2 separate regions of the Homo sapiens genome follow, and region 2 is linked to region 1. Evidence: fine-mapped expression QTL. A gene starts in region 1. The other region holds a variant in brackets. All regions are shown on one strand. Distances are from middle to middle. Region 1 holds the start of TMX1 (thioredoxin related transmembrane protein 1). Region 2 holds the start of LOC105370489 (a long non-coding RNA gene).

Evidence for each region.
Region 2: its variant is fine-mapped to the expression of TMX1 in vagina (GTEx, PIP 0.95).

Annotation. Positions count from the first base shown.
Region 1 is chr14:51,236,996-51,242,375 of GRCh38, reverse strand. TMX1 (thioredoxin related transmembrane protein 1) reads right to left here and starts at 2,129. Exons shown (of 8, transcript NM_030755.5): 1 at 1,932-2,129. The coding sequence starts at 2,083. RefSeq lists an enhancer at 1,851-2,090 and a silencer at 1,951-2,293.
Region 2 is chr14:50,819,852-50,825,231 of GRCh38, reverse strand. NIN (ninein) reads left to right here. Exons shown (of 31, transcript NM_020921.4): 3 at 3,155-3,358. The coding sequence starts at 3,176. It overlaps LOC105370489 (a long non-coding RNA gene), which reads right to left and starts at 3,435. Exons shown (of 2, transcript NR_135258.1): 1 at 3,281-3,435; 2 at 1,723-2,050. RefSeq lists a silencer at 2,857-2,916 and an enhancer at 3,377-3,426. The variant C/T (reference allele first, on the strand shown) is at 2,024.

The DNA.
Region 1 (5,380 bases):
TACTTGACTGTATTTTGCATATACACACACGATCACTATTGCTTAATATATTGCTTATAACACTATTTTACAGGCACGATCTAAAACAAGTTACTCATGATGATGACTGAAAAAGTGTCACAGTTCCTCTCCCCTGAAGCTTTCAATGGTGCCTGAATGAAAATTCATTTCAGAATTGCAGACTACATGCATACTATGAAAATTTCCCTTTATCTTACCCTCCATATAAATGTTCTACTTTTTTTTTGAGATTGAGTCTCACTCTGTCGCCCAGGCTGGAGTGCAGTGGTGCGACCTCGGCTCACTGCAACCTCTGACTCCCAGATTCAAGCGATTCTTCTGCCTCAGCCTCCCGAGTAGCTGGGACTACAGGCGCGTGCCACCACGCCCAGGTAATTTTTTGTATTTTTAGTACAAACGGCGTTTCACCGTGTTAGCCAGGATGGTCTCGATCTCCTCACCTCGTGATCCACCGGCCTCGGCCTCCCAAAGTGCTGGGATTACAGGCGTGAGCCACCGCGCCGGCCAGTTTTGTTTTTTTAAAAAATAACACAGGACTTACTGATTTAGCCTTCTGGGTTCTCCCTTGGGGATGTCACTTTCACTGGCCTCCTTAACTTGACAACCCTTGCTGTATTCGTGACACAAGAAAACACTCACCTGAACCCTGTTGTCTTTTCATTTTTATTTATTTACTTATTTATTTTGCTAGTTGCCCAGGATCTCTTGAACCCCTGGGCTCAAGTCATCCTCATACCTCAATCTCCTGGGTAGCGTACGCCACTTCCAGCTGAACCTTTTTAAAGAAGAAGGTGTTCTAACAACAATTATTGTATGCCTACTCTGAAGACCCAAAGAAAGCCAGCACAGCAATATCTGCATAGGTTAACTAAAGTATTTAGGTATCTTGTTACTCATTTGTAAAACGTGAAAAACACCTGTCATAGAGAATTTGTAGGGAATTAAATATGGTATTCGTGTAAAGGTGCTTAGTGGTGTCCAGTACACTGTTAATAATTATGCTTTTACTATTATCAGTAAATACTGCTAATATGTATAATACCACCATCAACAACGACTTAGCATCTAAAGCAAAGACAGATACTTTATTTCCCACCGCGGCAGAACAGATATTATTAAATTGAAATCACCACACAAAATACATGATTTCGTTCGAGCAATAAATGATGACCTGGCGCTCTTGAGAGTGTATACATTAATACATTATCTTTTAATGTAATACCATTTACAAAGACCTAGGAGTCACAACCCAAGGTATTCTCTACACTACAAAGACACCCAAAGGAAAAATGAGATGAGGAGTGAAAAAAAGAGAAAGCAAAAGAGGAGGCAAAAAGAGAAAACGAAAACTTAAAAATAACCCAACTTGAATTGACTCAGTATTTACAATAAAAAAGAAACGTACCCAATCCATTAAAAAAAGCTTAAAAGCGCCAAATTCCAACACCATAAAGAGACTATCTTTTAAGGACAGACAAAACGAGAGGAGAAATTTTGCTCAATATTCTCTTATGTAAAATGTGGTGAAAATAAGTGTAGAAGTCTGTGAAGAATCACTTTAACTACTTAGACACGAGTCGGACACCTCCCTCCCCGCGCCCCAGTCGCATCCTCAAAGTCATGAAAAATGTCAGAATTCGCATTGGCACTAACCCTTTGGGCGCACCACAACCCAAGAAACGAAACGAGGGTGCACCCCAGAAGAAACTTAACATTCACGGGTAAGAGACGAGGGGGTGGGACCAAGCTGGCGGCAGATCCCAAGAGTTTGGGGAGCTGCAGAAGTCGGGGACGCTCGCTCCGCAACTCGGAGGCGCAGTCCTGGGGAGCCTGCGACCCGCACGAGGAACGTGCGGGGTGAAGTCGTGTGTCCAGGCACGGACGTAGGACCCTGGCCGCCCCGCACTCACAATTCTATCATCCAGTCTCCTTCCAGCAGTTCTCTCCAGTTCTCGTCCGTGATGACGCGAACGTTGCTCCGCCGCCCGTGCGTCCAGGGAGCACCCCAAAGCAACAGCACCAGGACTGCCAGGGGAACTGCAAGACTCCCGGAGGGCGCCATTTCGCCGCTTGCCCACCTCACAGGGAGCGCGGTCGCAGCTCCCACTTCCGCCCTCGCGGGCTGCTCAGCGCAAGCGCACTACGGTGCTGCGAGGAGCGCCTGTCTAGAGGACTCTCAATGCGCATGACAGGGGTCTGATCCCAGTGAGTGGTGAAGTCGGGAAAGAGGGAAGAACGACTCTCCGCAATGCGCATGACAGAAAAGCGGCTGCTTCTACCGCCTAGGGTGTCCCAATATTGTGGGGGAAGGAACAGAGCAAAAGGAGGCGTGGTGTAAAAAGTGGGGCGGTGCTTTGAGGAAGAACGGTTTAAAAGACCCTCCCAGGATTTTGGCGCCAAATGGTTAGCGTTTACAAGCAAATTGGTAAGTTTATAATGTGCTAAAGCAGTTTTCCAATTAAATGTCCTTCAGAGTTCTCATTTGTTTTCTTTGAAACATGTAGTAAAGCTAATGGATTTTATAGGAGTCGGAATATTGGTTTACTTCTGAGAGATTATAGACAGGGAAGGTGCAGAGGAACATTATGGTTATGTTGGATGTGTTGGAGGTGTTCAACATCTAGATATGAACAGTAGTTACATGGGCGTACGTATATGATTTTTTTTAAAGAAGGATCAAGCTGTACATTTTAAGACAGTGCACTTTATGCACTTTCAGGTGTATGTTATCTCTCAAAAAAAATTCAGTAGGTACAGAGATCCTAGGTCAGTACTTCAAAATGGAACCAGACACATAGGCTTGTAAGATATTTGAGTTTTTTCTCTCAAACATTCGTAAATACAAATGCAAACCAAAATGTGCACTGCCCCATCAGTCAAATGAAAATAGTTGCAGGTGCGGTGGCTCACGCCTGTAATCCTAGCAAAACAGGGAGGCCAAGGCAGGCGGATCACTTGAGGTCAGGAGTTTGTGACCAGCCTGACCAACATAGTGAAACCCCGTCTCTACTAAAAATACAAAAATTAGCCAGGCGTGGTGGCAGGCGCCTGTAGTCCCAGCTACTCAGGAGGCTGAGGCAGGAGAATCGCTTGAACCCGGGAGGCGGAGGTTGCAGTGAACCGAGATCATTCCACTGCACTCCAATCTGGGCTATAGAGAGAGACTAAGTCTCAAGGAAATAGTTGCCACTATCTTACCTCACCTTTTCAACTTAATTAACCCCAATTAGTCCCCTTCCCCACCCCTCCACTGAATAGCCCTCTCAAGGACACCAGCGACCAGCAAGATAAATCCCAATTGTTTCTTCTCAATGCATCTAGCATGACTCCTAGCCCCATTCTACCACACCCTTGAAACACTTTACTATCTTGCTGTCTGGGCAGCTCGCTTTTTTTTCTGTCCTACAGTAGCTGATTCTTCTCAAACTTCTTGGCTGGTCCTCCTTTACTTCCGGACATCGGCATCTCCAGGATGCTTTACTGCCCCCCGCCCCCCATCTCCCGCCACCTTTCTCTTCATATCATCAGGCTCTCATCTTTCTGGGAACTACAGGCATATGTATTCAACTGTATATCATTCAGACTCTGATCTTTCTGGGAACTACAGGCATATGTATTCAACTGTATATCATTCAGACTCTGATCCTTCTGGGAACTACAGGCATATGTATTCAACTCCTTGCTAAACATCTCTTGGGTATGTAATAGCTGGTGAAAGGAAAAGAAATCTTGGGGCCCCAAAATCATTAAGCTAAAGGGAAAAGTCAAGCTGGGAACTGCTTAGGGCAAACCTGCCTCTCATCCTTCTTCTCACTGAGATAAATGCATATCTGATTGCCTCCTTTGGAAGGCTAATCAGAAACTTAGAAGAATGCCACCATTTGTCTCTTACCCACCTATGACCTGGAAGCCCCTTCCTGGCTTCGAGTTTGTCCCGCCTTTGCTTTGAGTTGTCCCACCTTTCCAGGCCAATACAATGTTCATCTTACATATGTTGATTGATGTCTCATGTCTCCCTAAAATATATAATATAAAATCAAGCTGTGCTCCACCCACCTTAGGCACATGTCCTCAGCACCTCCTCAGGCTATGTCATGGGCGCGCATTCTTAATTTTGGCAAAATAAACTTCCTAAATTGACTGAGACCTGTCTCAGATTTTGGGGGTTCAGAAGCTCAAACATCAAACGGCCAAAAAAGATAATTCTTGATTCTTCCTCTCCTGGTCTTCCATCCACTAAAGAGCCCCGAGGTTCACCAGGTTTCTCTAGCCAAACATGTACATGTTAATTCTTTATTGTTCTCTCTCTTCACCTTCTCCTCTTGTAACCTATGAGCAAATCTTGTAAACGTTACCTTCAAAACGTATCCTGAATCTGACCACCAATTTCCATCTCAACAGCCAACACCCTAGTCCAGAGTTTTCTTGCCTTGAGTACAATGAGAACTTCCTAAATTTGTGAGAAAATAAATTTCTATTGTTTAAGCCACCCAGTCTATGATATTTTATTATGGCAGCCCAAGCTAAGACACTAGACCTCCATTACAATGTTGAATAGAAATGGCAAGAGTGGCCAAACATACTTATCTTGTTCCTGTTCTTAGGAGAAAAGCGTTGTCTTTTACCACTAAGTATGATGTTAATGTGAATTCTAAATAGTTGCCTTTTATACAGGTGAGGAAGTTTCCTTCTATTCCTAGAAGGTCGTCTGTTTTTATCTTGAAGAAGTGTTGAATTTTGACAAATCCTTTTTCTGCATTTATTGAAATGACCATGTGGTTTTTGTCCTTTACTCTATTGATATGGTGTTTTTTTTGTTTTTTTTTTTTTTTTTTTTTTGAGACGGAGTCTTGCTCTGTCATTAGGCTAGAGTGCAGTGGTGTGATCTCAGCGCACTGCAACCTCCGCCTCCTGGATTCAAGCAATTCTCTTGCCTCAACTCCCGAGTAGCTGGGATTACAGGCACGTGCCACCACGCCCAGGTAATTTTTATATTTTTAGTAGAGACGGGGTTTCACCATGTTGGCCAGGATGGTCTCTTTCTCTTGACCTCATGATCTGCCTGCCTCAGCCTCCCAAAGATACAGTGTATTACATTGATTGATTTTGGGACATGAAATCAACCTTGCATTCTTGGTATAAATCCCACTTAGCCATGGTGTATAATTCTTTTTATATATTGCCACATTCAGTTTGCTAGTATTTTGTTGCATATTTTTATGTCTATATTCCTTAGAGATATTGGTCTGTAGTTTTCTTGTAATGTCTTTGGTTTTGCTATCAGGATATAACTGGCCTCGTAAAATAAGCTGGGAAGTGTTCCCTCCTTTTCTATTTTTTGGAAGTGTTTGTGAAGAAT
Region 2 (5,380 bases), 420 kb after region 1:
GTAGATAATTCACTTGTTACCTCCTCTTCAGTTTACCACTCCTTTGTAGCTGCAGGTATTCTTTTGGTTATCTTAAATTCCCTCTTGTATCAGCTTTCTCTGGAATTAGCCACTCTCGCTTGCTTGCCACATTTAACTCTCAGAACAAACCTTCCAGATGGATATTGTTATTCTCATGCTGTAATCGAGGGGACTTGAGAAAGGTTTTAGTATAGATTCTCCTCCAAAGTTTCATCCCATAGCAAGACAATGCAGTCGAAGTTTGTGAATCCATTTACTTAATTACTAGCCTATTGAATTAAACTTCAGACAGCGCTGCATGTTACAGATTGGCAGTTGGTGTTGGCTTTCTACTTCTTGCTTAGGAGGCTGAAAATGCCTTTGAGAAAGGGTGGGATGGGGGAAGTGGAGGTGTGTAGGTGGATGAGATGGGCATTCCAAAATTTTCATATGCCCATTTCTGTAGACCTCATTTAGGGTACGTTTCCTCTCAAGGAGTGATCCATACAGGAAGTCAATCCATGATATTTACCAAATCCCTGGCTTGAAGAACAGACTGACTGTAGTATGCATTTGGGGGAAGATATAAAAGAAATAGGAGCGTGGATCTTACCATTAAAGAACTTTCTGCCAAGTGGGGAGAAAAAAATTCTTGCACATGAAATTACTGATGAACATTTGGGAAATAATATCAACCAGTAAAAATGCCTTCTGTGCCAGATGAGCACTGACAACTTGTCACCATGCGTAACATCTCCTGGATGTTTCAGCGTGAGCATTTGTTCCACAGGGGTGGTGCTTGTCTCCCCTTCAGTCAAGCACAGTGTTTTGAGAAGGAAGGAGATGAAATAAAGAGATAAAGAAAAGAAAGCTGCCATAAAATGAAAGAGGTTTGATTTAGTGAAAATCCAATGACCTCCCAAAGAGTGGGGCATGATAGTATATCAAATTCGACACCGTGGATAAGATCAGGGCTTCTCAGTACATCAGTGTTTTATTCCTCTCTTTCATTGGTTTAAGATGGACAAATCCCCGCCCCTTAAAAATAATTTTTAAAAAGGGAAGTGTTAGAATTCTTTCGCTTTTGAGTTTTTAAACATATATGCAAAATCAAGCAAAAGAAGAGTCTTGCTTTTATGAGGTCGGTCAGATAACAGCCCAGGGGACTGTAAAACTCAGAGTGAGACTAAGAGCTACCGCAACACTGAAAATCCTGGAGCACCTTGGGGATTCTCAGCAGATCTTAGTTGACAATTAACTGGTGGACTCTAAGTGAATCTTGTTAGCGAAGTGTTGGCCTTGTCTAAATTCTTAACTCCTGTGGCTTTGCATAACAACTTGGTGTTTCTTTTCTGAGGCTTTGATGTTTATATAACACTCTCAACTTATTTTGAAAACATTTACATAGTGATTAGTTAACCCAACAGACCAATCCTGGGAAGACAGCCAGAGCCTGCAGCACCTTAGTAACAGAAAAACTGATAATTAGGAGAAGAGACCTGTCCAAGACCAGGAACCTGGACCAAAATTGTGCCATGTTGCTTTACTTTAATGAGTGGCCCCAGTAAAAACTGAGCTGTATGGCAGAGCTGTTCACATTTATCTTCTGTGTCCACCCAGTTCTGCTGAAACCCCTGGCAAGATCGTGGCCCTGTTGTAGCTTGTCATGTTTTGAACAGCTGTCTATGGAAAGAAAGCAAACACAACCTAGAGCAACATTGATTTGTTTTAGAAAGCTCTTTTATTTTCAGTTCTGGCTGTGTTCAACATCTTAGCTTACGTTTTTCATGTTGTAATGATCTGCCGTATGGACGATCACCTCTAAGTTAGAGAGTTCTGTAATTTGGCTTGGATTAAAGATGCTTGGTTAGTGAAAGCTGCTGCTTTTTTTATAGTCAAAGGACTGGTTCTGAGAGCCTTGTTGCAGATGGCTGAGGTCACCGTCCCAAGGGTGTATGTCGTGTTTGGCATCCATTGCATCATGGCGAAGGCATCTTCAGATGTGCAGGTTTCAGGCTTTCAT[C/T]GGAAAATCCAGCACGTTAAAAATGAACTGTCATGCAAGGAAAAAAAAAAAACCACAGATTTCATTAGTAAAATACGAGCTACCTGGAATTTTATGATGTATATTTTTAACAAAAATGACTCAGTTATTGACGTCTCCAAGTTTTTACTGATCCTAAGGACAGTGGCAAAATGGAAAGCCTGGAGTATGGGTAGGTGAGAGAGACGGAACACAGGTTAACCAGGCATAAAGAGATGAGATGCTTTAGTGAGTGGAGGTTCCCTGAGATGCTGTATGATTCATATAAACCAGTCAGTGGCTCCTTTAAACCTCACTGTCTGAAAGGTTGAAATAGTGTCTTCCCCTTTCTCTAGGCAACTAAGCATTACCTAAAACTCGCTGGGACTAAAGCAAGCTTCTGGGAATATTCTTCCCGTCACACCTCATGTAATTGCACCAGTGAAGTTAATTGAGTTGCTTTTTGAGGAACTCGTGTAAAAGGCATTTAGTTTCATGTAAAACAGGGAGGTGGTTTTGTAGCAGACGTCGTGTTCATTTAGTGCCTCTTGCTGCAGCCCTCCAGTCTAGCTATGATGGGGGCCATCTAAGCTGAATGAAGTAGAACGAATCAGCTTGGCCACGCTGACCGATTGCACCATCGGGGCAGGTTGTCTAAAGCTTGCCAGCTAGCATGGAAGCTCTGACCATGCAGTCTGCTGGCGCTAACAATTAGTTCACTTGAATAGTCTTGCTGTCAAAGTGGCTTTTCACCTTCTTAAAATCCTGGGCTAGAAGAGCTGGGAGAGAACCACCTTCAGCCTTGAGTTTGGCAGTCTGGCTGTCCGCCTGAGAACCAGGCAAGAGAGGAGGGTGTCTTCTACTGTACGTGACCCTCTCATTCTGGTAATTTTGCTCCCAGTGTGATCTGAGCTTATGTATATGCCCCTGATGTGAGTGCATGCAGGAGTGTCACTGGCCAGGGCTGGTCCTACAGAGACTGGGGGTCTTGCTGTGGGGTGCATCAGAAACTGGGTGTTCCCGAGCATTCCCTAGAGACTGGTGGGGTACAGAGAACGGGAATGTGCCAGGTGGTGACCACGGTAGGACTGGAGAGGCTGCCACAACCTGTCCTTGTCTCTGTCTTACACACAGGTGAGCACTGTGGGCTATGGGATGGATGAGGTGGAGCAGGACCAGCATGAGGCCCGACTCAAGGAGCTGTTTGACAGTTTTGACACGACGGGCACAGGGTCCCTGGGGCAGGAGGAACTCACCGACCTTTGCCACATGTTGAGCTTGGAGGAGGTGGCCCCAGTGCTGCAGCAGACATTACTTCAGGACAACCTCTTGGGCAGGGTAAGGTCTGGGGAAGAACGTGGCTATGGGAAGTGGGGTGCGGTTTCTGCCGGGGTGCTGGGGGTGGGGCGGACCACACATGTTGCAACTTGTTTCTAGCATCCTGGCTGTTACATGATAAAAAGAAGAATGTAATGGGTGTGACATCACAGTCCAGTTTGCTAGGGTGACAAGAGCCTGCTTTAATTTGTGCTCTGGAATTATGGTGTACAGTGAGCATCTTAGATAAAGAGGCAATGAAAGGATGTTTTCCAACTTTTTTCTTGTTCTTTGTGGTTTATTTTATTGACTCCACATTCATCACTGGGACAGAAAGGAGGAGGGTGAGATTTCCATTGAAGAGAAAGAAAATGCAGTAAGAAAGCTATTGTTATGACTTTTACTCCCAGTGAAGCTATTTCTTGTGTGGATTATTTCTGGGTGAAGTATTAATTAAACTTTCTACCCAGGAAATAAGACAGCAGGGTAAATAAATACAGTGCAGGTTCATTTAAAACCCAGCACGGCTTGCTTCCAGCAGGGATGTGTGTGTGCACGCCAATGTTAACCTCTGTGTTTGATGACAAATAGTCATGTTATTACCATAGATCAAGTCACAGATGTGAGTAAGAAGTGAGAGAGGGTCTTTTTTTCCTCTTGCCAATGGTGGATATTTGATCTGCCATGACCTGAGATTGCCTTCAATTCTCCTCATTATAATTAATAGCTTTTATTATTTGCCTTATTTATAATTAATAGCTATTTATAATCAATAGGTTTATATGGCTTTGAGTCAAGTCTCTTGCTGTTGGATTTTGGAATGATGAGAGAAAAAGATGGACAACACTTTTTGCAGTCTGTTGCTTCATTCTGGTTTTTATCACGTATAAATTGAGGAAGCAGTTGTGAGGCTTAACTTTATTCTAGTGACTGAGCTTCCTTTTCTTCATTTCATTTTCACTGTCTTTTAGCTGACAAGAGAGGTAAGTGACTTCAGATATAGTACCATGTATTGGCTTTCTGTAACCTGAGACAGACAGGAGTAGCCATCATCCTGAAATTCATGTGCAAAAGATGATATTCTCAGGCACTTGGCACATGAGTGTGATGTTAAATGGGACTCACACTTGAAAAAAATATGTGACTTCTTTGCAAAAACTGGAGCCATTCTTGGCCTCTTGTGGCGGGGGGAGGGTTAGCTGTCTCTACATACATGTGGTCCCCATAAAATGCTAAAAATCTTGCTTTAATAATCTTAAAATGAAGCTTCGAAGATTGAACCATTTGCTCCTCATGCACTCACATATTTTCCAGTTCCGCCTCAGTCTTAGACTCTGTGGGTAGCAAAAAAACTGGCATCTCCCAGTATGGTCCTTGGGGATCTCAGTACTTTTGGTGTCTAAAGGATAGTATCAATGGGCTGATCTGTTTTAATGCTCATTAAAGTCTGAAAAGGCATGATACAACTAAGGTTTCCTTGAGTGGTTTTCTTAGAGTCTGCGTAAATATGGAATGCCACGCCGTAAACAGACTGCACCTTGGCAGCAGGTCAATGCTTTGCTCTCCAGATGTTGCACATCTTTGCCCTCATTTGGTAGACTCAAACAGGGAGCAGTTATTGATTGATTTGTTAACGACTTGACACTACCAGCCTGCTTCTGACGCTTGCTATTTGCCTGAATAATGAATACTTAAGTGGTCTATAGTGTGATATTTACTTAGTGAGCCAGTGATAAAAGTTAAATAGATGGATGCATATTGATTTCATGTGGGAGGTCCCTGGTGATAGTCCTGAGAGTGGGGGGGTTGGCATGAGTTAATGCACTACTGTTAAATTTGCATTTTTTAATGAAACCAAATTATTCTCCTCAGATGATCACACAGACTTGGCCATATGCTATTAAGATACTCTATATGGTCCATAATTTTAAATTATAAGAAAAAATGCCATAGGATTCACTGGAGCCATCCAAGTGTTATCATTTTCATGATGCATACAGTAGGGATTATAGTTGTAAAATTATAAGTGGTTTTTACTGCCAG